Homo sapiens: one gene and its partners. The protein of the gene in region 2 interacts with the protein of the main gene of each other region in a biochemical or structural test. Each region holds a gene or a part of one and is shown on either strand. Other genes may lie near its edges.

Region 1 (7,023 bases), on a different chromosome or scaffold from region 2:
TGAAACAATTCTAAATGCCCCACTTCTTTCATGCATGAATTGCAAAAAGATGTGGCAAGTTTTGTTTCTACCAAGAAAACTAAAAACACCTTTTGTCAAATAAATGCTCCTTGCATATTTAACTTATGCACCAGTGGCCTTTTAAACAGTCAATGTCCCATCAAGGTGCCTGCACATCTGGGCTCTCCGGGAGCAGCCATGGCAGCACCCGGGAAGAAACGCTGATGTGGCTGCTCTGCATGCTCAGATGACTTCATCGGGAAGCCTGGGTGCATTTTACGCTGGGTGCCAAATCTCGAGTAACTGAGGAATTCCCAGAGCCTTCTGAAACACAGAGCTGCAATAAGGCTGCTCCATCCAGGTTAGCTCCATCCTAGGCCAAGGGCTTTATGAGGACTGCACATATTCTGTGGGTTTTATAGGAGACAGCTAGGTCAAGACCCCTCAGAGAAAGCTGCTTTGTCCGGTGCTCAGCTTTGCACAGGCCCGTATTCATATCTCATTGTTGTTTGCAGGAGAGGCAGATGCGAACCAGAACAATGGGACCTCCTCTCAGGACACAGCGGTGACTGACTCCAAGCGCACAGCGGACCCGAAGAATGCCTGGCAGGATGCCCACCCAGCTGACCCAGGGAGCCGCCCCCACTTGATCCGCCTCTTTTCCCGAGATGCCCCGGGGAGGGAGGACAACACCTTCAAAGACAGGCCCTCTGAGTCCGACGAGCTCCAGACCATCCAAGAAGACAGTGCAGCCACCTCCGAGAGCCTGGATGTGATGGCGTCACAGAAGAGACCCTCCCAGAGGCACGGATCCAAGTACCTGGCCACAGCAAGTACCATGGACCATGCCAGGCATGGCTTCCTCCCAAGGCACAGAGACACGGGCATCCTTGACTCCATCGGGCGCTTCTTTGGCGGTGACAGGGGTGCGCCCAAGCGGGGCTCTGGCAAGGTGAGCTCTGAGGAGTAGAGGAGTTTTAGTTTAAATGGAAAAAGCAAAGGAGAAATCAGTAGGTGAACTCAGCCATTAGAGGAAGAACTGGCACGTAGCCTCTTGCTGTCTAAGGTCTCGTTCCGTGCTGGAGAATGCATATGAGCCCAAGAGTGTGGGCCTGAGTGGCTGCTTAGGACGTTTTCGTTTAACTCACCCCCTCTTTTCCTCACAAGGGATGGTGGCCGGGGTGTGGCTCAGGAATGTAAGGACATGCTGAATTCTGGATCTCTAAGGGTGCCTGGACATGGGCGTTGCAGAAAGAGAGCCACATTCTCAGGGTCTCTGGTGGTGTGTGCTTGCGGACTTGATGACTGATGTTGCCTCTGCAGCCCACACGCTGGGGTTCAACACTGGGTTATGCTCGTTTTTTCCTGGAGTCAGTGCTGCTAGCTTCATGTTGCTCTGCGACAATCATAGGATTGAGGTCGAGGAAGACTTTTGAACAAACTCCTCAATTTAAATCCGCCTTGAGCAAACGTTCTCTGTGGTCTGAGAAGTGGAAGGGGGGAGGGATAAATGAGTGTCTATGAATCAAAGCTTTATTATCTTGTGATTCCATTAATTTGCATACAGAGTCTTAGAAGTTTCTTTATTCAAAAGCAAATGTGGATAAAAATGTATTACAAAAAAAAAAAACTCTGCTATGGGGTCCAGAGTCTAGGAGTGGTTTCTGCAGTTGATTGTCAGTGGAGAACCTGTGGCTGCTGGTTCATCAAAGCGCTGGTCCCTGAGTGCCATTCAGATTGCAGATGCAGTATTTTACGTGATGTTTAGAGTGTTTGGTGGTTGTGTAATTTTGGAGAGAAAGAAGTTTTTCCCAAAAAAGTCCCTAGTTTATTGGGTGTTCTCACACAACCTGTAAGATGAAGCTGTTTTTCTGCCTGTGTGCAGGGCTGATTCTGGAATTCCAGAAGGCCTTGTGGGAGCGTAAAAGGCTTTTGAATAAAGTGTGGAACAGAGCGCCTCATTCTGATAACATGCAATCATAAAAACCATAGGGCAACTTGGAGTTAAGGAGTTTCTAGAATTTGCTTTAGTCTCCAACTGCAATTCTTTATTGATCATGAAATTGTTGAAGAGAAACACAAATGTCAGTTTTACCTTTCCTGTGGGCGTGAAAGCACATCGAAGTTTCAGGCAACTGTTAACATCTCTACCATCTGTCTGAGTTGAGATTTCAGGTTGTGACACTTGCCGTGACTTATTTGTAAATGACATTTTGTGTGTCTTAGATACTAATGGAATTCATATTCTGGCTAGTTCTTTCAGTGCATTTGTAGACATGTTCTTTTCCTTTGTAGCAGTCCTCCCTCACCCTGAAATGTTGGTGTTCTAACCGATTTCTAATGCTAATTTCAACTGGAAGCACTTTTTCAAGCCCAGCTATCAAACCACACCAGACATGTATGGATTCGGGTTGCCCAATAAAGCGTTGCTATTATGTAAGCATCCCTCACGCATACAGCATCACCAGTTTTGAAAGCTTGAACTATTCTGCTTACTTCAAGGTACAGAAAAAAAAAATGTACTTAAACTGTGCAGAAAAGATGAAATCACTGGATAATATGTATTATAAAATAAGCTTCATGTGAGTGACACTGGTTTAAGTTGAAATAAAATGGTGAAAGCATTGATATCAATCATTGTGACTTTATCTCAAAACAATATTGACACACATAGATGTTTTTCTTCCTTTATGGTAAGATTACAGCCTTTATTGTCTTAAATCTCTTATACTCTTCAATATTTTCAAAGAAAACATTCTAGTCTCAGAAATAGTCCATCTCTTTGCAAAACAGGGCTGGCCAATTATCAAGGACCCATAAAAATCAAAACACTTTCAAAAATTTTAAAAATAAAAATAATTTTCACATGATTGCTTTAGGAATTTTGAAGTATCCATTCTTTTCACTATGGAGTGTTGAATATAGAAGATTTTTTAATGAACAGGCTTGCCCTTTGATGCCAAAGGCAAAAAATAATAATAATAACATTTGCACGTGTGATCACAGAGCAGCTGTGAGGCATCCCGGGGGAGCGCACGCAGTGGGGATGTGATTGCTCCACTCAACTATTTTATCACAAAGTGTTGTAAACATGGGAGATGAAAGCTTAACTCTCTCTACACCCAGCTACAGACCCGCAATGGCCCTAAAAATCTGGGGTATTCATTGGGTGGGCTGCCATGGAGGAATTTTTGGTTTTGTTTTTATTTTTATTTGTTGTTCTGTTTACAAATCAGGAGAGCCCCTGTTTTTATATGCTAGGAAGGTCCTTGGGATAGGCCGAAGAGGTGTGCAAACGAGCAGTGGAAGGCCCGGGCCCTGTCTCTCAGGACCACGGCGGCCTGCCCCACACACAGTTCTGCTTCTCCCTATCTAGAACGAGGTTTTCCTGGCAGATTCCTGCCAGACTCTGAGTGGAGCCCCCCCATGACCCTATAAAAGGGGCTGTTTGTCCTCCTCCCACCCTCCTGTGCTCTTCCTCCCTCCCCTTGAGGGCACATGGCCGCTGGTACCACATGTTGGAGCGGCCGCCCCCGAGCCCGGGAATGCCCTAACAACACCCATGCTTGTGTTGCTGGGAGCTGACATTCAAGAAAAGTGCATTAAAAATTCCTTGAGAAGGCATATTCTTTTGAGAGCCGTAAATGAAAAGTGCATTCACGGAGAACATGCTCCTTTGTTGTGAGAGGAAAGAAAGGACTGTTGTTGCCTTTAAGGAACAGGTTTCCCAGTTCCCCGGAATGTCAGGGTCACATGAGGAATGGGTGAGCACTTAGGGCCAAGATTGTCGTGTGCTTGGCCCGGCAGCTTCTCTCTAAGTGACCTCTCCAGCATCACTCTGTGCCAGTGCTCATATCTGAGGCCACTTGAGTGTCACGAGGCAGAGCCTGGAAACATTAGCTTTGGAAACCGTTCCTTCCTTTTTATGTGGAGGAAGTAAGGTTTCACAAGACACCTAAGCTGGACATGGTGATGTGCCACTTGGATAGTTCCCAAAGCAGAAAGCAGCCAGGACATCCCAGTACCCCACTTCTCCGTGCCGTGTACTTTTAGGGAGGTTTTCGAAAGCTAGCTTCTTACCGATGATTTTGTCTATTTTTCTGTTTTATGTGAAAACCTTCATTTATAACCTGCTCTTCTCAGTGTTCTTCTATTCAGCATTCAGTATGACTTCTATGCCTCTAATTGCGACTGTATGGAGAAGAACTGTTTGTCATTCAGTGCCGTGGGATATAATCAGTCCTGTAAATTCATCAGAATGTTCTGTTGCCTGATTTTTTTTCCATTGCATTTTAATTTCATTAAACATATTTTAGTTCTACAGTAACCTAATTCCTCATTGTTACCATGAGATCCTAATTCTGTAGCTGTGTTCTGTAATCCCATGGGGCGTGTACCATTTGGAGACACATGAAGGATACAGTAGACAGCACGGAAGGCAGCAGCAACACACAGGGGTGTCCTCCCTCCCCAGAGCCCAGTGTGCACACAGAACCAAATTCAATCTCATTCATCGTGAGCTTGCATGGTAACTGATCCAGCCACTCAGTACCTCCATTGGATAAGAGATTTGGCCACAGATTCTTCTAGAGAAAATCCAAATGTGGAGGGTGCATTTGTTTCTGCACCCAAACAAATACCTTTTGAGATTTCTTATAGGCATTCCTCTCAAAGTCTCATTACTCTGATCAGTTATTGATCGGAGGCTACCCTGGCTCAGTCACCAGCTGCTCACTGTGTCCTTCTGTGGTCTCAGGAGCTGCAGTTGTTGCTGTTGTATGAATAGACGATAGTTAATTAGACTGGATGTGTCTGTACTGGCAGTGATTTTGCAACTTCCTCTGTATAAGCGATACATTTGTAAATCATGGGAATGTATTTGATGGTAATTGCCTGTGGTGGTTGTATCATGATTTAATTTTATTATGAGCTTTTGGCTTTATATATTTTTCTGCCTTTTTATGCATTCATTAAACAGTTTAACAGACCAAGGACAGTGTACTAATTGCATGCGAACTTCTTTAATTTGTCGTTTTTGGTTTGGTTGCCCCCACCACGTCAGTGTGCTGTGTTGCCGGCATTTTTGTGGCCTGGTGACACAGCTGGCAGGTAAGTGTGAGCACCCGAGCTCCTGCCCTTCTGTGTGGGAAGGTCACAGTTGCTCACTCATCTGCTTTTACTACACAGAGACATTTTACTGTCTTCTCTCACCTGACCTGTGCTTCTGTGTGGGAAGGTCACAGTTGCTCACTCATCTGCTTTTACTACACAGAGACATTTTACTGTCTTCTCTCCCCTGACAGTTCGGTGTTCTGGTCTTTCTATGGTGACTATTCTGATTCTGCCTGAAGTTTCTTGTGTTTCTCTCAAAGCATCATCCCGCAAATGTTAGGGAGGGTGGACGCTGAGCAGATCCCACTGGCAGGTGCTGTCATGGACACAGCCCGCCCCACCAGCATCTCCTGAATGAACGTGCACATGGGTGCCAGTGCCCACAGGGCCCCCCGGGAGCTCACACACAACGGGGGTCATGGGAACCTCGAGACACTGAAATGAGGGGATGGTGCTGGCTCTCTGAAAGATGATAATGAGTGTATGAGATGAAGCTGAAACTTGGGGTCTTTGAGAAATTAGAAACAAGAGTAAAGATAAGTGATTGGCTTGGATGCGGTCCTGCCTTTCATGTCCCATCAGACCCTCGTCTTAACTCATCTCCTCCCTTTAAACTCATTTGCATTTTAAAGCATTCATTTCTCTCATCGTTGATTTTCCTTTGATAAAAAGTCTGGACATTTGATAACAGGCAATTCTGATCGGTGAATTAGGAGCTTGGCTTGACATCTGAGGGAATAGATCATCCTTAGAAAAAAACACACAATAGCACTCGTGAAAATCACTTAGATATTGATACAAATTTAAGAAGTGTGGACATTTCCTATCAAACCCTGATTCAATGTTTTTAAAAGTTTTTTCCTTTATGGCTATCAGCACACTCTTAATGCTCTGAAATCATCCTACTTCATAAAAACGTAGTAAAAAAGAAGAAACAGCTAAAGAACACTGAACTCTCTTGAGGGAGCCCCATACAAGCGGGCTTAGCACACACAATTTCTCCTAAGAGGCTATTCTTGCCTTTCGTCTTCTCTGGCCCTTGCATTTGTCCTCCCTCTTCCTGGCTCTGGGAGTGGCAGGCAGCCGGGGTTACAGGTTGCATTTCCTGAAAACCATCAGTGGGATGTCTTATGGCTACCCCAGCCACCTGCCTTCCCCATGAGTAGACAGGGAGTCAGTAGAGGGGCTTCACGCCAGCCCACCAGAGCCACGAGAACATGCCTCACAGTGATGATCTTCTTTGTGAAGAAGAGCCATTGTAGGAGATGGAGGGAAAATTAATGGAAAGTTCTTCGCTTGTTGGCCCTGTACATAGCGTACACTTGCTCACGCTCATGGACACCAGCTGATGGGAGTCACTGCTTATGAGGACAGCCAAGTCTCATCAGCACAGCAACTCCCGCAGGCTTATCCACGGAGACCTCCTCTAAAGTGAATACTCAATTTACTTACCTTTAATATCATGAATTAAAGTCACCAGAAATTCCTGCTAACCTAGAAATAGCCTCTCTCATGCAGGGAGAATCCATCAGGAGACGTACAGCTAAGCACACACTCACCACAGATTTGCCTCTGAAAACCCCGGTGTGTTCACTTTCCATAATACTTCTAGAATGCTCCCACATTCTTCAGTGTCGGAACTACTCTATTCTCATGCATACTCAGCTGCTAACCTGGTTAAAAGAATCCATTTCATCTGCAGCCAATACATCTCCTGAAACCTATTACGCTGATTTCATCTCTTGACCACTATAAGTCTCCTCTTTCTCTTCTCTCTCTGTCTTCATTTTGCTGTAGCTGATAGTCAAGAAATAGACATTTCTTGCAGGGCACTTACCTTGGTCCTATAATAATAGTCTTTCAACTGCAGCCCTCAAAGTTCATTGATATAGCAGATACTCTCGTGTAACT
Region 2 (7,692 bases):
TAGACTCCACCAAATGGCTCCTAGAATTGATAAACAATGTCGGTATAGTTTCAGGATACAAAATCAATGTATAAAAATCAGTAGCATTTTCATATACCAATAACGTTCAAGCTGAGAGACAAGTCAAGAACACAGTTCCATTTATAATAGCCACACACACACACACACACACGCACACAATCTAGGAATACATCCAATCAAGGAAGTGAAAGATCCCTACAAGGAGAATTACAAAACACTGTTGAAGGAAATCATAGATGACACAAACAAACAGAAAAATATTCCACGCTGATGGATTGGAAGAATCAATCTTGTTTAAATGGCCACACTGTCCAAAGCAATCTACAGATTCAATGGTATTCCTAAGAAACTACCAACATCATTTTCCACAGAATTAGAAAAACTATTCTACAATTCATATGGAACCAAAAAGGAGCCTGTAGAACAGCAGGAAAAAATAAAATAAAATAAAATAAAACCCCAAAAGAGCCTGAATAGCTAAAGCCAAAGCCAGAGGCATCATATTACCTAACTTCAAACTGTACTATAAGGCAACAGTAACCCAAACAGCACGGTACTGGTACAAAAACAGACACTCAGACTGATGGAACGGAGTAGAGAACTCAGAAATAAAGCCGTACACCTACCGCCATCTGATCTTCAACAAAGTCGATAAAAATAAGCAATGGGGAAGGACTCCCTGTTCAATAAGTGGTGCTGGCTAGCCTTATGCAGAATAAAACTGGACCCCTACCCATCACCATATACAAAAATTCACTCAAGATGGGTTAAAGATTTAAATGTAAGACCTCAAACCCTAGGAATCATAGAAGAAAACCTAGGAAATACCATTCTAGACATCGGCCTTGGGAAAGAATTTATGACTAAGTCCTGAAAAGCAATTTGCAGCAAAACGAAAAACTGACAGACGGGACCTAATCTAAACAGCTTCTGCACAACCAAAGAAACTATGAACAGAGTGTGGTGTTACGATATATATTGGTTTTCATCTGTGGTTTCTGGCTTGTAACTCCCATAACCCTCGTTATAGTCTTCTGTTATGTTGAGTGTGTTAGGCCTCAGAGGCAGGCCTCTAATTTTTTCCTGCTCTCCTTTTACCTGCTAACAACCCCCCACCTTTCTGACTGTGGGTCTTAAGACCTTCCCAGGAGAGGGTCCCATTGGATACACATGGACATAAAGATGGTAACAACAGACACTGCGGACGGGAGGGAAGGAGGGAGCAAGGGTTGAAAAACCAACTGTTGGGTGCTCTTTCTACTACCTGAGTGACAAGAACAATCGTACCCTAAACTTGAGCATCATGCAATATATCCATGTAACCTGCACATGTACCCCCGAATCTAAAATAAAACTTGAAATTACTTTAAAAAAAGCACTATTTTGCACAGCTCAGTGATTTTTAGGAATTCATGTGTGCCTTCACAGTGGGAGTGACTGTGCTCCTCCCAGAGTATTTTCTTCATGTACTTCTTCAAATACCTCCTACACTTCAGAAACTTCTCCAGATTTTCTTTATACCCTTCAACCAAAACAACATGCTGCAACAGCATGAATGTAGAAGCAGAAATGAGAATCCACTGTCATCTATTAAGCCAGACATTAAAAAGATTTGTGAAAATGCACAACGGTGTCACCATTCTTTTTGTTTTGTTTTGCAAAATACCGTTATTTTTCATTAAAAAAATTCACTTCAGCCTTTCAGCTGCCTAATTCAGATCCACAAAAATCCCACAGCCAAAGGGAACCCTGACTGTAGACTCACCCTCTGGATTCCTGTCCTTTCTTCCAGAATCTTGCCAGCTAGTTCCTCATTATCTCATAACCCTATGCTATGGAACATAAATTACCTAAACCGTGCCTTTTAGGTAGAGGGAGAATCTCTGGACCAGCTAGAAGCAGAATTTCAACATTGTATTGGGGTTTGGGTGCCTAACATAAAAAACATATTTAAAGTTAATAAATCAAAAAAGCCAGCAAAGTAAAACAAAAAATAAAAATTGTGTATGAAAATGGCTCTGAAAGGATCTGGAAGGAAAGCACAAAGTGAGAGGGTATAAAAAGTTACAGCTTTGGAAAATAGCTTGATATATAATTTCAGATTTTGTATTTCTACAGTAAAATGCTACTTGAGCATTTAGGCGTTTTAGTTTTCCACACATGAACCTCATCGATTTCCAGAGTTTGTGGTTCTTGGTGAGGATAGCGGGGAGGATTATCTTACTCCTACAAGGTTTTGGAGGTTTGACAAGTTGTTGAAAATATTAAAAGGCACATAACTATTACTAGCTCAGCAACATTTTGTTTCAGTATAATCACTGATTCACTACCTATTTTACTATTGATATTAATTCCAAAAGCTAGTGTGGGTCACATAGATTCCATTTTACATGAAGAATATAAAGTTTCCTTACTAGAAATTTACTTCTATTATTTTATACACCTTTAGAAAAATCTAATGTCACATTGATTCATTGATACAGTTGTGTAGCGGCTAGGTGTTTTTCCTCATGACTATTTCCTTCCTTCCTTTAATTATTATTTTTTTTTAAGATGGGGGTCTCACTATGTTGTCCAGGCTGATCTTGAACTCTTGGGCTCAAGCAATCCTCCCACCTTGGAGAAAATTAAAGAACTCTTTCCTTTAATTCTTTTTCTTTTTCTTTTTTTAGATGGAGTCTCGCTCTGTCGCCCAGTCTAGAGTGCAGTGTCGCCATCTCGGCTCACTGCAACCTCCACCTCCCGGGTTCAAACGATTCTCCTGTCTCAGCCTCTCGAGTAGCTGGGATTACAGGCGGCTGCCACCACGTCCAGCTAATTTTTGTATTTTTAGTAGAGACGGGGGTTTCACCATGTTGGCCAGGCTGGTCTTGAACTCCTGACCTCAAGTGATCTGCCCGCCTCGGCCTCCCAAAGTGTTGGGATTACAGGCGTGAGCCACTGCGCCCAGACTTTCCTTTAATTCTTTACTATTCAGCTATTTTATCCTTCCTTCTTACCCAGTTTGAAATGTAATTCATGGCTGGGCTGGGTGGTTCACGCCTGTAATCCCAGCACTTTGGGAGGCCGACGCGGGCATATCACCTGAGGTCAGGAGTTAGAGACCAGCCTGGCCAACATGGTGAACCCCACACCCCTCCCCCTCCCGTCTCTACTAAAAATACAAAATTAGCCTGGTGTGGTGGCGCATGCCTGTAATCCCAGCTATTCGAAAGGCTGAGGCAGGGGAATCGCTTGAACCCGGGAGGCAGAGGTCGCAGGGAGTCGAAATCGCGCCATTGCACTCCAGCCCGGGCAAGAAGAGCGAAACTCCGTCTCAAAAAAAAAAAAAAGTAATTTACATTTTCTTCTGCCTTTTTCACAGGACTCACTAGTCTCAGTTCCTGGAGATGGGAAGTACAAAACCTGTTTCTTTACTCAGTTGTAACTTGCACTGGCTTTCCTAACAATTACAGCATTCTGGGGTTCTCTGGGAACTTACACATCTGTTCTTTGCTCCCCAAATAAGCAGGTACTTTTTTTGATTGCTCTTAAACAATCTGGGTATTTCCCTCCCGGCCTCGCGTGATGCAGTTTAAAAAATAGAATAGGTCACGTTATTCCCCTGTTTCATCTTGTTGATAATTTGTGGAGTCGGGTAGAGACTCCATCTTCTATCTTAAGTATCTGGCGCTTGTGGGGGAATTAAGATCCTAAATGAGAATACTAAGTCCTTCGGCAGTTGGCACTAATCAATTACTCATTACTGATAACGGAATGAGCCACTGGAAATTTTAAAAGGAAAAGTACATGGGAGAACCTGATCAATTTAGCCAGCCACTTCTGGAGTGCCACAGTCACTAATGAAGCAACCTCCAGTGCAGGCCCTGGCTCCAGGGCGCTATGTACAACCTCCTGCCTCGCGCAACGTGGGTCTCCCGGAGCCTATCCTGCCAGCGCCGCGCACGGTCCCAGTCCACCAGGCCGCCAAGGCCCGGAGGGGGGCGCCCTAGTCGCGGGGAACACTGGAAATGCTTCAGGGGCGGACTCCGAAGACCGAGTATTGCCTCGAGGGACTTTCTGCGCCACCCCGTAATCGCTTGCGCTCCAGGTCTTCGTAGGTGGGGGCCGGGTGGGTGAAGACTGGGACCCTATGCCACGCGCAGCACTCAGAGGAGGGCTGGGGTCCCAGGGCCGCAGCGCGGTCAGTTCAGTCCGGGCTCGAGCTTCCTAGCAGCGCCCTCCTTGGGGGCTGGCCCTGACCCTCGGTGCCGCTACGAGTGGGTGGCCAGAAGCTGGTGGTGGAGAGGGAGAGCGTCTGCAAGGAACGACGAGGCTGGCGCCGGGACCACGCGGCGGAGGCGATCGAAAGAGAAACGAGGCCAGGCAAGGAGGAGGAAATCCACCCGATGAAGGCGAGCTGCCGCCTAAGAGGGAGGAGGGTCCTTTCGGCTGCCGCTGCTGCTGTTCCGGGACGCCGCCTGGGGAGCCAGCCCGCTCGTAAGGTGCGCGCCAGGTAGCTCCGCACCCAGGGGGCGCCCTTCCTGGCCCCTCCCAGAGCGGCCGGGACGGAAGGAGCTGCGCGGCGCGGCGCGGCGCGGCGCGGCGGGTGGCGAGGGCGGGCTGCACCCCGAGCGCGGCGCCCTTGAGCTGCACCGCGGCGCAGGTTTGCGAGCCGACTTGTCAGCCGGCCAAGAAAAGGAAGCTCCGTCCCTTCCCGCTCACCCGGCTTCCCCACCCCTTGTACTCTAAACTCTGCAGAGGGCGAGCGGCGCGGCCACGGAGGCGCCGAGGAGGAGCGAGCCGCCGCCGGGCAGCGGCGTGCCCTCGGGGGAGAGGGCGCCGGAGAGGAGGCGGCGGCGCGGCGGCGAGGGCGCGGCGCGCGATGGCAGCTGCTTAGCCCGGCGGGCGCGGAGCAGCCCCGAGCTGTGGCTGGCCAGGCGGTGCGGCTGGGCGGGGGACGCCGCCGCCGTTGCTGCCCGGCCCGGAGAGATGAGCACGGAGGCGGACGAGGGCATCACTTTCTCTGTGCCACCCTTCGCCCCCTCGGGCTTCTGCACCATCCCCGAGGGCGGCATCTGCAGGAGGGGAGGAGCGGCGGCGGTGGGCGAGGGCGAGGAGCACCAGCTGCCACCGCCGCCGCCGGGCAGCTTCTGGAACGTGGAGAGCGCCGCTGCCCCTGGCATCGGTTGTCCGGCGGCCACCTCCTCGAGCAGTGCCACCCGAGGCCGGGGCAGCTCTGTTGGCGGGGGCAGCCGACGGACCACGGTGGCATATGTGATCAACGAAGCGAGCCAAGGGCAACTGGTGGTGGCCGAGAGCGAGGCCCTGCAGAGCTTGCGGGAGGCGTGCGAGACAGTGGGCGCCACCCTGGAAACCCTGCATTTTGGGAAACTCGACTTTGGAGAAACCACCGTGCTGGACCGCTTTTACAATGCAGGTGCGTGTGTGACCCCTTTCCCATCCCGCGCGGTCGGGACCCGCGTTTAATCTGGCGGTCTTCGGGGCATTTCATTTTTCTGGGCGGGAAGCATTTACTTCTTGCCCCACTTTGGGGGCAGCGAGCGCCGCTGCGTGACTGCTCCTGTCGCTCGCCGCTCCGGAGAGAGCGTGTGTGCTTGTGCAAGAGTCTGTGTGTACTTGTGCGATAGACCTATGGATCCACCCACCGCCCAGCGCTGGAGCCCTGGGTCCATGCGATCGACTTGAACTGTTCTCCAGCAGTGTGAGATATTTGCCCCAGTCAGTCTTTCTCCTTTCAGTGTCTCGGTTTCGCTTCTGTGAGGTTTGGTCCCTGTTTTCTTTCTGCATATACCTGTGACCGTTTTAGATGAGGTTCTCCTTTTCTCTGTGTAGTTTTGAGAGTACGGGAACGATGACATACCATGCACGCAGAGTGTAACTATATTAATTTGCATGCCATGTGATGATCTTCCCAACTCACCTTACCTTCGATAAGTTTTAGTAGCTTGAATTTCCTCTCACCAACCCAGACTTTGAAGTAATTACAGTGCTTCCAAAGGCAATAACATTACAACTTACACTGAACTTGTGTGTTATCTTTGTAAGGATTTTGGTGAAAGAACCAGGGCCTGTTTTTTATTACCCCATAAACCATGGTGGGCTAGAAAGTTTGTAATTTAACATTGTCTAAAACACCTGTATGCTATCCTAATAATAAGATTAGTTTCGCCATTAAAGTGATTGCTAGCATAATCCATGAAAGAAATGTATCTTTCAACCTATCTCAAATTTCAGAAAATGTTAAGGCAGTTCTAGTAACTGAAGCACTTAGCTGTTAGCAAATGTTAGGAATAATACCATATTATGGAAATTAACCTTTAGTCCCCTGTACGTCCAGTGTTGAGAATATATACATATTTATGTTTACATTTGTGGGTAAAAACTTGGTTTAGTAGTTTCAAAACAATACACTTCTTGCATTTGTGATCACATAAAAGGCTTTATTTTCCAATCTTGTTTTCAATTCTGATTCTCTTTAGTGTCTTCCAAACACCTGAAGTGGGCTTATGTCAGTTTTGGAATTCAGCCAAAGCTGAATATTTTGAGAACAACAAGACCTTCATGTTAAGGAAGCCAGACTAAATAAACTAGGACTTTCTCGTTCTGGTATTTTTAAAATAGTTTTGGTCTTCATAACTGAGCATGGCTATAATATAGCTTGATTCTTTGGGTAGCTTGCTATAAAAGTTACATCAACATAACTTTTCTAAAAATTGTAGCACTCTTATTTTTGGATTATAATTTGGAAGAAACTTCAAAGAACTAAAAGATATGAGAGGAAAATACCCAACTGAACACTTGAGCCTATTTTTATTGCACTGATTGGGCGTTTTTTTCCTAGGGCTCTAGAAAAAAAATGTTAAACTCTAAGCTAATTTGAAAGAAACTTTCCTAACAAGGCTTGGTTTCTGTTATTCTCCAAATACTGTCTCTGGGAAAGGGAGAGAGAATGATTAGAAGGGAGCTGAAGTTTGAGTGTATTTCATTGAATCCTCCAAACAAGCCTGTGAAGGAAGTACTTACCTTCTTAGGTGAGAAAACCCAGGGATCCCTAACTGGCCCTAGGATTCATAGGGAGTAAGTGGCCAATGCAGGATTCCACTTCAGGTGGCTGACCCTAAAAGGTTGTGCTTGGGCCAGGCGTGGTGGCTCACGCCTGTAATCCCAGCACTTTCGGAGGCCAAGGCGGGTGGATCACCTGAGGTCAGGAGTTCCAGGCCAGCCTCCTGGCCAACATGGTGAAACCCTGTCTCTACTAAAATGACAAAAATTAGCCAGGCATGGTGGTGCACACCTGTAGTCCTAGCTACTCAGGAGGCTGAGGCAGGATAATCACTTGAACCTGGGAGGCAGAGGTTGCAGTGAGCTGAGATTGTACCACTGCACACTCCAGACTGGGTGACAGAATGAGACTCTGTCTTAAAAAAAAAAAAAAAAAAAAAAAAAAAAAGAGGTTGTGCTTGGCCCTTGCTTCCTCCATTTAGGTGGGCTGAGTTACTCTCAGAATCAAGGGAAGCTCCCTATCTTGGAATCATGTGAGTGAGCTGGCAAAGATCTTACCAGGCATTTAGGTGTGTATGGAATAGTGGGGAGGGCATGCTCTCGGAAGCCTCTTTTTCCTGCGCCCACTCTGTCCCTTCGTACTGCTTCTTTCAACCTAGACAGGTC
Region 3 (7,177 bases), on a different chromosome or scaffold from region 2:
GGACCACTGTCATACCTGGCAAAGTCTGGAGAACGGGAGATGACGTGCTGGAACTCAGAGAGGTTGATGGTTCCATCCCTGTCAATGTCAGACTCCTCCAGGATCTGGGAAAGGGAGAGTTTCAGGCCAGAGCCCCAACTGCTCCCTCCCGCTCCCAGGCCTGCTCAGCTGCTCACGTTGTCGATGAGCTGCTTCATCTCAGACGCACTAAGCCGTGTGTCCTCGCCCTCTCCCGTGAGGCAGTTCACCAGCCGGCTCAGGTCTTCTCTGTTCAAGGTTCCGTCATCATCAAAGTCTAGAGAGCAGACACAGGAAGCCAAAAGACACGGTTGGGAGGGGCTCTGAGGTTCCCCAAACGGCGCCCATTTCCCAAGCAGGGCCACCACAAAGCCCACGTGGGAAGGGGTGGTGTCCTGCCGGGCTGCTCCTGGTTCTCACCAAAGATGCGGAAGGCATAATGGGACTTGATGTCTGGCGTGGCTGTGTCACTGAACACACTGAGGAGATCCAGGAAGTCCTCAAAGCTAAGGCTGTCTTTGGCTGGGGATGTGGAGAAGACCCTGCAGATTCGCTCCTTGAAGGGGTTGGCCTAGGAGAACAAACGCCACAGGACGTGGCCCAGGTCACACGCTCATTAAAGCCTACCAGAAACTTGAGAGAGCAGGTCACAGGACCAGCACCAGCGAGCTCAGCCTCGTGGGGGTGAACAGTCAGTGCTTTGGGGCCAACATGGAGGGCAGTGGGGGCACAGGAAAGCAAACTGACCCAGCTGGGGAAGGGACTGAGATGGCTTCCTGGGAGTCAAGTGTTTAACCCAAAGGCAGGTCACATACAACGTAAGTGTGGGCAGAGAGGGAAGAAGAAGTCATCCTAAACAAAGGGAACGAGATGGGCTGGTTATTTTAAAACACAAATATTTACTTGAACAGCTATTGTGTTACAGGCACCGGGCCAGGCCCTTTGCACAGAAATTTTGCAGCAGCCTTACGGAGTGGCAATCAGCCTCTAGAACACGGTTCCTCAAACTCTAATGAGGTACCTCAACTCCTCTTAAGGGACAAAACTTCTTTGAACTTCCAAGATTATGTTCTAGAATCCCCATTTGAAAAGCACCATTCTAGATAATTCTGCCAGGTGATTTTGGTAAAGTCCTTGCCCCTAGAAAATCAGAACTAAGCAGAAAAATGACCAGAGTGGGGACCAGTGACCCCATGATCCCAAAGCTAGTGGCAGATGGAGTTAGGGGGTCTAGCAGGGAGGGAGTGGTGGGAGAGGTGTCAAAGGAGGGGAGCGCTTGCACCTTGAGCTCTGGAAGGCTGAGAATCTGCTCGAAGGGCACTTGTGCCCGAAGTGACGACTCCACGCTCCGCTGCTCCTGGGGAAGCAGCTCACAAAACCGCCTGTGGGCTCTGGTAGAGAGAGGGGAACTGTCGGTGTTCTCAGCGATCGGTCTCCCTGTGTGTTCATTCCCACTCCTTGCCTGCTGCTCATTGTCAACCAGGTGAGGAGCTAAAACCACGTACACAGAACTTCCGAGTCATCAGGCAACGGTAAGCAAAAGGACATGTCACAAGGCAGTACAGCCTAGGAGTCTATTCTTGCAATGAGTATTTACTGAGCATTTACTATGTGCTTGGCACTGATTCTAGAGATCCCCAAGGGATGAAGAAGTTGGGAAAGGAGCCAGAAGTTGGCCCTAAAGAATTGGCCAGGCACGGTGGCTCACACCTGTAATCCCAGCACTTTGGGAGGCCAAGGCGGGCGGAGCTTTGGAGGTCAGGCGTCTGAGACCAGTCTGAGCAACATGGTGAACCCCTTCTCTACTAAAAATACAAAAATTAGCCGGGCATGGTGGCGGGTGCCTATAATCCCAGCTACTCAGGAGGCTGAGGCAGGAGAATCACTTGAACCCGGAGGCAGGAGAATCACTTGAACCCGGAGGCAGAGCCTGCAGTGAGCCAAGATCGTGCCCCAGCACTCCAGCCTGGGCGACAGAGCGAGACGCTGTCTCAAAAAAAAAAAAACGGAGAAAAGAGCAAAACCAAAAATCTCATTCTCACCTTCACTCCAGGGATCTCTTACCCTCAAAGCCTCCTTTTTAGCAACCACACTGAACTGTCCTCCTCGGCCTCCACCTCCTTCCCATGAGCTTATCTTTGCCACAGGAACCTGGCCTGCATAAATCCGGCAAAAGGGCTTCCAGCCCAAGTTCAAATCTACTTACTCAGAGTGTTGTCTTAAGCAGTTACCAAACCTTTCTGAACCTGTTTCATTGTCCAGTACCTCTCTCCTAAAGATTAAATTAGGTAACGCAGGCAACCATTTAGCACAGTCCCTGGCACATGGTGAGTGCTCAGAAAGCGATAACGGTTACTGTATTATTCAGGTAAAGTTGGGAGAAGGAGCCGGGCTCCCCAAGGCTTCTGTGGTTTAGCCACTGGGCAAGGTCGGCCCCTGCCGGACTGGGGCAGGAAGTTCGGCAGTGCTGAAGCTAGTGGAGCCCAGGGTCAAAGAGCGCCTAACTTTTCCTGGAGGCTGTAAGGTGGCTCCGCGGTGCCACGCTGGGGCCTCAGGCGAGGGCGGGGAGGGCGTGCCGGGAGGAGGGCGCAGCCCGGGCTAGGTCTCCCGGCCTCCAGCTCCCGCTCCTCTGCAGACCTCAGGCCAGCCCCCGCCCCTCCCTCGGGACAGCGCCCCCGAAGCTGTCTCTAGAGGATCCCGGGGTCGGAGGCAGGGTTCAAGGCAGCACTTACAGGAGGATCTCCTGCTTCGTCAGGAACGTCAAGTCCTGGAAGGCAAAGCCAGAGCGGGGATTAGCGGACCGCTGGGAGGCCGCGGCCGCCCCGCAGCCAGCTCCCGGACCCTGCTCCCGAGAAGAGGCCCGCACGCGAGCTCCCCAGGGCCAGGCGTCCCGCGCACCTGGTACTCGGCCAGCAGCTCCTTGGACAGGCGACTGCCCGAGCCCCCCATCGCCCCGCCGCGCGCACAGCTCCGCCAACTCGCCTCGAGACGCAGACAACTTTCTCACTTCCGCCCTTGGGCCGCGTCACTGCCCGGTCCCCGCGGCAACCGCTCCTGGGGCCACCACCCCCGGGCCCGCCCCCTCCTAAAAGCTGCCAGGCGTTCCCAGCCGGGTTTGGCAGGCGAGCTGCCGGCTCCAAGCGGTCCTAGGCGAGCTGGAGGCGGGGCCCGGGGAGGGGCCCGACGCTCCGGGGCGGAGCCCGGGACTCACGGCCCCGCCTCCGGGGTGGGAGGGGGGGGCGGGCCACGCCGCGCGCGTGCGTGCTGGCTGCGTATGCGTCACGGGCGTCATGACCTCGCTGTGGCCCCGGCAGCGGCTGCGGGGAAAGTCGCGAGGTGCATCCGCTTCGGCTGCAGTAGGTGGTGGCGGCGGCAGCCCTGGGTGGGGTCCCATAGGGGCATCTGAGAAGTCACTGGAGCTAGCGTTTCCGGGAAACCTGGAGACTCGCTGAGTGGCGGGGGTCGTCGGCTGCCCCTCTGCCCAGCAAGGGCTTTTCTAGATGTTATCATCAGGCAATCGCTGCACCTGTCGCAGCCCCCAAGCCACCTCTTCCAGAAGTAACCATAACCTTGCTTCCTTCTTAGGCTATTTACTGAGGACCCACTGGATGTCAAGCATTGTGCATAGTTTTCTTCGATTGTTGCAACATCCCTTGCGAGGTAGGTTCCCATTTTACAAAGATGGAAATACGTAAGTCCAAAGGGTGTTAGTGATTTTTCCGGGCGCCGGCATTTAGAAGGTAATCGGTCCAGTCCAAGGCACTTTTAAAGGCTCTCCACTGCTGTTCTCATCATTCCAGCTGACCTGCCGTCCTTTTGACTCCATCTCACCCCTAGACTGCTGACCCTTTGCTCTTGTCCCCTCTTAACCTCTAGGATAATGTTTGGCACATAGTAGGCTCTCAGTAAATATTATCGAATGCATAATAAATGAATGAACGTATACTATTGCAAAAGGTAAGGATTCCAAACTGCTGGGAGGAGGAAGTGGAGGTTGTGTTGGTCAGGCTGGGATTAATTCTTGATCCTTCCAATCCATTATACTTGCTGATCTTTGTAAAGTCTAAATCTGAGTATGTTAGTCTCAGTTTATAACCATTAAATGGTTAAAAACCCAAATCCTGGCCCTCTGTAACTGGACTTCCTCCTATTGGCTCTCTGTCTTTCAGCCACTTTGGGCCCTCAGTCCCTCTTCCATCTCATCCTCAGGGAAGCCTTTCCTGACTCCCTAGACTGCCTAGGAATCTACTTTACACTGGAAGAATACCCAGTGCTCTCCTTGGCAGCATGTGTTTGATAAGACACACTGTATTAACAGGTACATTCCATCATTGTAGAAATATTCAAGGCCAGGCGCGGTGGCTCATGCCTGTAATCTCAGCACTTTGGGAGGCTGAAGCAGGCGGATCATTTGAGGCCAGGAGTTCAAGACCAGCATGGCCAACATGGCAAAACCCCATCTCTACTAAAAATACAAAAATTAGCCAGACATGGTTAAACCTGGGAGCTGGAGGTTGCAGTGAGCGGAGATTGTGCCACTGCAGTCCAGCCTGGGCAACAGAGTGAGACTCTGTCTCAAAAAATAAAAATAAAAAAAAATAACTAGGGTATAGGCCCATCCCAACCTGATCATTTTTCTCTTTTTTTTTGAGACAGAGTCTCGCTGTGTCGCCTAGGCTGGAGTGCAGTGGCATGATCTTGGCTCACTGCAAGCTCCGCCTCCTGGGTTCACGCCATTCTTCTACCTTAGCCTCCCCAGCAGCTGGGACTACAGGCACCCGCCACCACACCCGGCTAATTTTTTTGTATTTTTGGTAGAGACGGGGTTTCACCCTGTTAGCCAGGATGGTCTGGATCTCCTGACCTCGTGATTCGCCCACCTCGGCCTCTCAAAGTGCTGGGATTACAGGCGTGACCCACCGTGCCCGGCCGATCATTTTTCTCTTAATAGCAGGCTCTTTCTGTCCGAGAAAGAGTTAGTCTTCTGTTAGTAAAAGCTTAGGCAAAAAGCAAGAAGCTGTCATTATGTCTCCTGTACTAAATAGACCTTGTTTGCCTCTTACAAGCCAAGGCGAATACCTGGACTGCATGGTAATAAGTATCTGTCTTCTTTTTTTTTGAGACAGAGTTTCACTCCTGTTGCCCAGGCTGGAGTGCAATGGCATGATCTCAGCTCACCGCAACCTCCGCCTCCTGAGTTCAAGCAGTTCTCCTGCCTCAGCCTCCTGAATAGCTCGGATTACAGGCATGTGCCACCACACCCAGCTAGTTTTGTATTTTTAGTAGAGACGGGGTTTCTCCATGTTGGTCAGGCTTGTCTCGAACTCCCAACCTCAGGTGATCGCCTGTCTTGGCCTCCCAAAGTGCTAGGATTACAGGCGTGCGCCACTGCACCCAGCCATAAGTATCTCTTTATAGTGAAGACATGAGAGTCAGCTTTGTGCCTGGTGACCAGCTGTGATCTAGATCTCTCAGTCACTTCACTTGGCTCTGAACCCTTCATGGAACAACCTTTGGTTTTCATTTTGCTTCCTGATTCATTTTGTACACTGACCAGCCAGCAAGAACCTTTTGTGCCATTTGGCATATTTCTCATTGTAAATTATTTTTATTTGTGAGATGGAGTCTCACTCTGTCACCAGGCTGGAGTACAGTGGTATGATCTTGGCTTACTGCAACCTCTGCCTCCCAGGTTCACCTGATTCTCATGCCTCAGCCTCCTGAGTAGCTGGGATTACAGGAGTGCACCACCACGCCCAGCTAATTTTTGTATTTTTTTTTAGTAGAGACGGGGTTTCACCATGTCGGCCAGGATGGTCTCGATCTCCTGATCTCTTGATCCGCCTCCCTCAGCCTCCCAAAGTGCTGAGCCACCACGCCCGGCCTCTCATGGTAGATTATTAAATGGGCAGTCTGAATCATTTGGTAGTCCTCGGTGAATCTGGTTAGCATATTGTCCCTCCTGTACCTGATCAACTCTTGGTACAGTGATAAAACCGAGCTGCTGATATACTTTTATTTTTTATTTTATTTATTTTTTTGAGACAGAGTCTCACTCTGTCACCAGGCTGGAGTGCAGTGGTGCGATCTTAGCTCACTGCAACCTCTGCCTCCCAGATTCAAGCGATTCTCCTGCCTTAGCCTCCCGAGTAGCTGAGATTACAGACGCCCACTACCACACCTGGCTAATTTTTTTGTATTTTTAGTAGAGACAGGGTTTCACCATATTGGCCAGGCTGGTCTCGAACTCCTGACCTCGTGATCCACCCACCTTGGCCCCCCAGAGTGCTGGGATTACAGGCGTGAGCCACCGTGCCCGGACTTTATTGTAATTTTCTTTTTTTCCCTTTTTTTTTTTTTTTTTGAGATGGAGTCTTGCTCTGTCACCAGGCTGGAATGCAGTGGCACCACCTCAGTTCACCACAACCTCCACCTCCCAGGTTCAAGTGATTCTCCTGCCTCAGCCTCCCAAGTAGCTGGGACTACAGGTGTGTGCCCACCACCACGCCCAGCTAATTTTTGTATTTTTAGTAGACACAGGGTTTCACCATGTTGGCCAGGATGGTCTCGGTATCTTGACCTCGTGATTCACCTGCGTCAGCCTCCCAATGTGCTGGTCCAGGGATTACAGGTGTGAGCCACCGCACCCAGCCCCTCATTGTGATTTTGATTTGCCTTTTCTTATTGATTAATGACGTTAAACATCCCAAATGTGCTTGTTGGCCATCTTTATATCTTATTTGAAAAAATGTCTAAGATTATCTCTTTTTTTTCTCCTTTTTTTGGTTTTGTATTATTTTTATTATCTCATTTTAAATTTTTTCGCCTGTCAGATAAGATTCTCTTTTATTAGAATAAGATACTACATTAGTCAGGCCTGGTGCAAGTGCCTGTGGTCCCAGCTACTTGGGAGGCTGAGGTGGATGGATTGCTTGAGTCTGGGAGGCAGACATTGCAGTAAGGTGAGAATAAGATACTACATTTGATCATCAAAATTATGCTTAGCTTCACTTTTTTGTTGTTGTTGTCTTTTACCTTGCAGCTCCAGCTCAAAGGATTAGCTTCACTTTTAAACATTTTTGGCCAGGTGCGGTGGCTCACGCCTGTAATCCCAGCACTTTGGGAGGCCAACGCAGGTGGATCACCTGAGGTCAGGAGT

What was found. The genes of interacting proteins can lie anywhere in the genome.
Region 1: of the proteins of MAP3K5 (region 2) and MBP, one has a biochemical effect on the other in vitro, tested with the Homo sapiens proteins (one study listed by BioGRID).
Region 3: the proteins of MAP3K5 (region 2) and CIB1 form a complex in vitro, tested with the Homo sapiens proteins (2 studies listed by BioGRID and IntAct).

Annotation. Positions count from the first base shown.
Region 1 is NC_000018.10:77,010,761-77,017,783, reverse strand, and holds part of MBP (Golli-MBP), read left to right. Parts: intron 1-515; coding exon 516-952; coding exon of another isoform or gene 953-970; exon of another isoform or gene 971-4,991; intron 4,992-7,023. UniProt on the Homo sapiens protein: The classic group of MBP isoforms (isoform 4-isoform 14) are with PLP the most abundant protein components of the myelin membrane in the CNS. They have a role in both its formation and stabilization.
Region 2 is NC_000006.12:136,789,458-136,797,149, reverse strand, and holds the start of MAP3K5 (mitogen-activated protein kinase kinase kinase 5), read left to right. Parts: upstream 1-4,672; 5' UTR 4,673-4,761; coding exon of another isoform or gene 4,762-4,992; coding exon 4,993-5,440; intron 5,441-7,692. UniProt on the Homo sapiens protein: Serine/threonine kinase which acts as an essential component of the MAP kinase signal transduction pathway. Plays an important role in the cascades of cellular responses evoked by changes in the environment.
Region 3 is NC_000015.10:90,230,919-90,238,095, forward strand, and holds the start of CIB1 (calcium and integrin-binding protein 1), read right to left. Parts: upstream 3,024-7,177; 5' UTR 2,968-3,023; coding exon 2,917-2,967; intron 2,786-2,916; coding exon 2,751-2,785; intron 1,530-2,750; coding exon of another isoform or gene 1,410-1,529; coding exon 1,301-1,409; intron 590-1,300; coding exon 439-589; intron 296-438; coding exon 177-295; intron 105-176; coding exon 16-104; coding exon of another isoform or gene 1-15. UniProt on the Homo sapiens protein: Calcium-binding protein that plays a role in the regulation of numerous cellular processes, such as cell differentiation, cell division, cell proliferation, cell migration, thrombosis, angiogenesis, cardiac hypertrophy and apoptosis.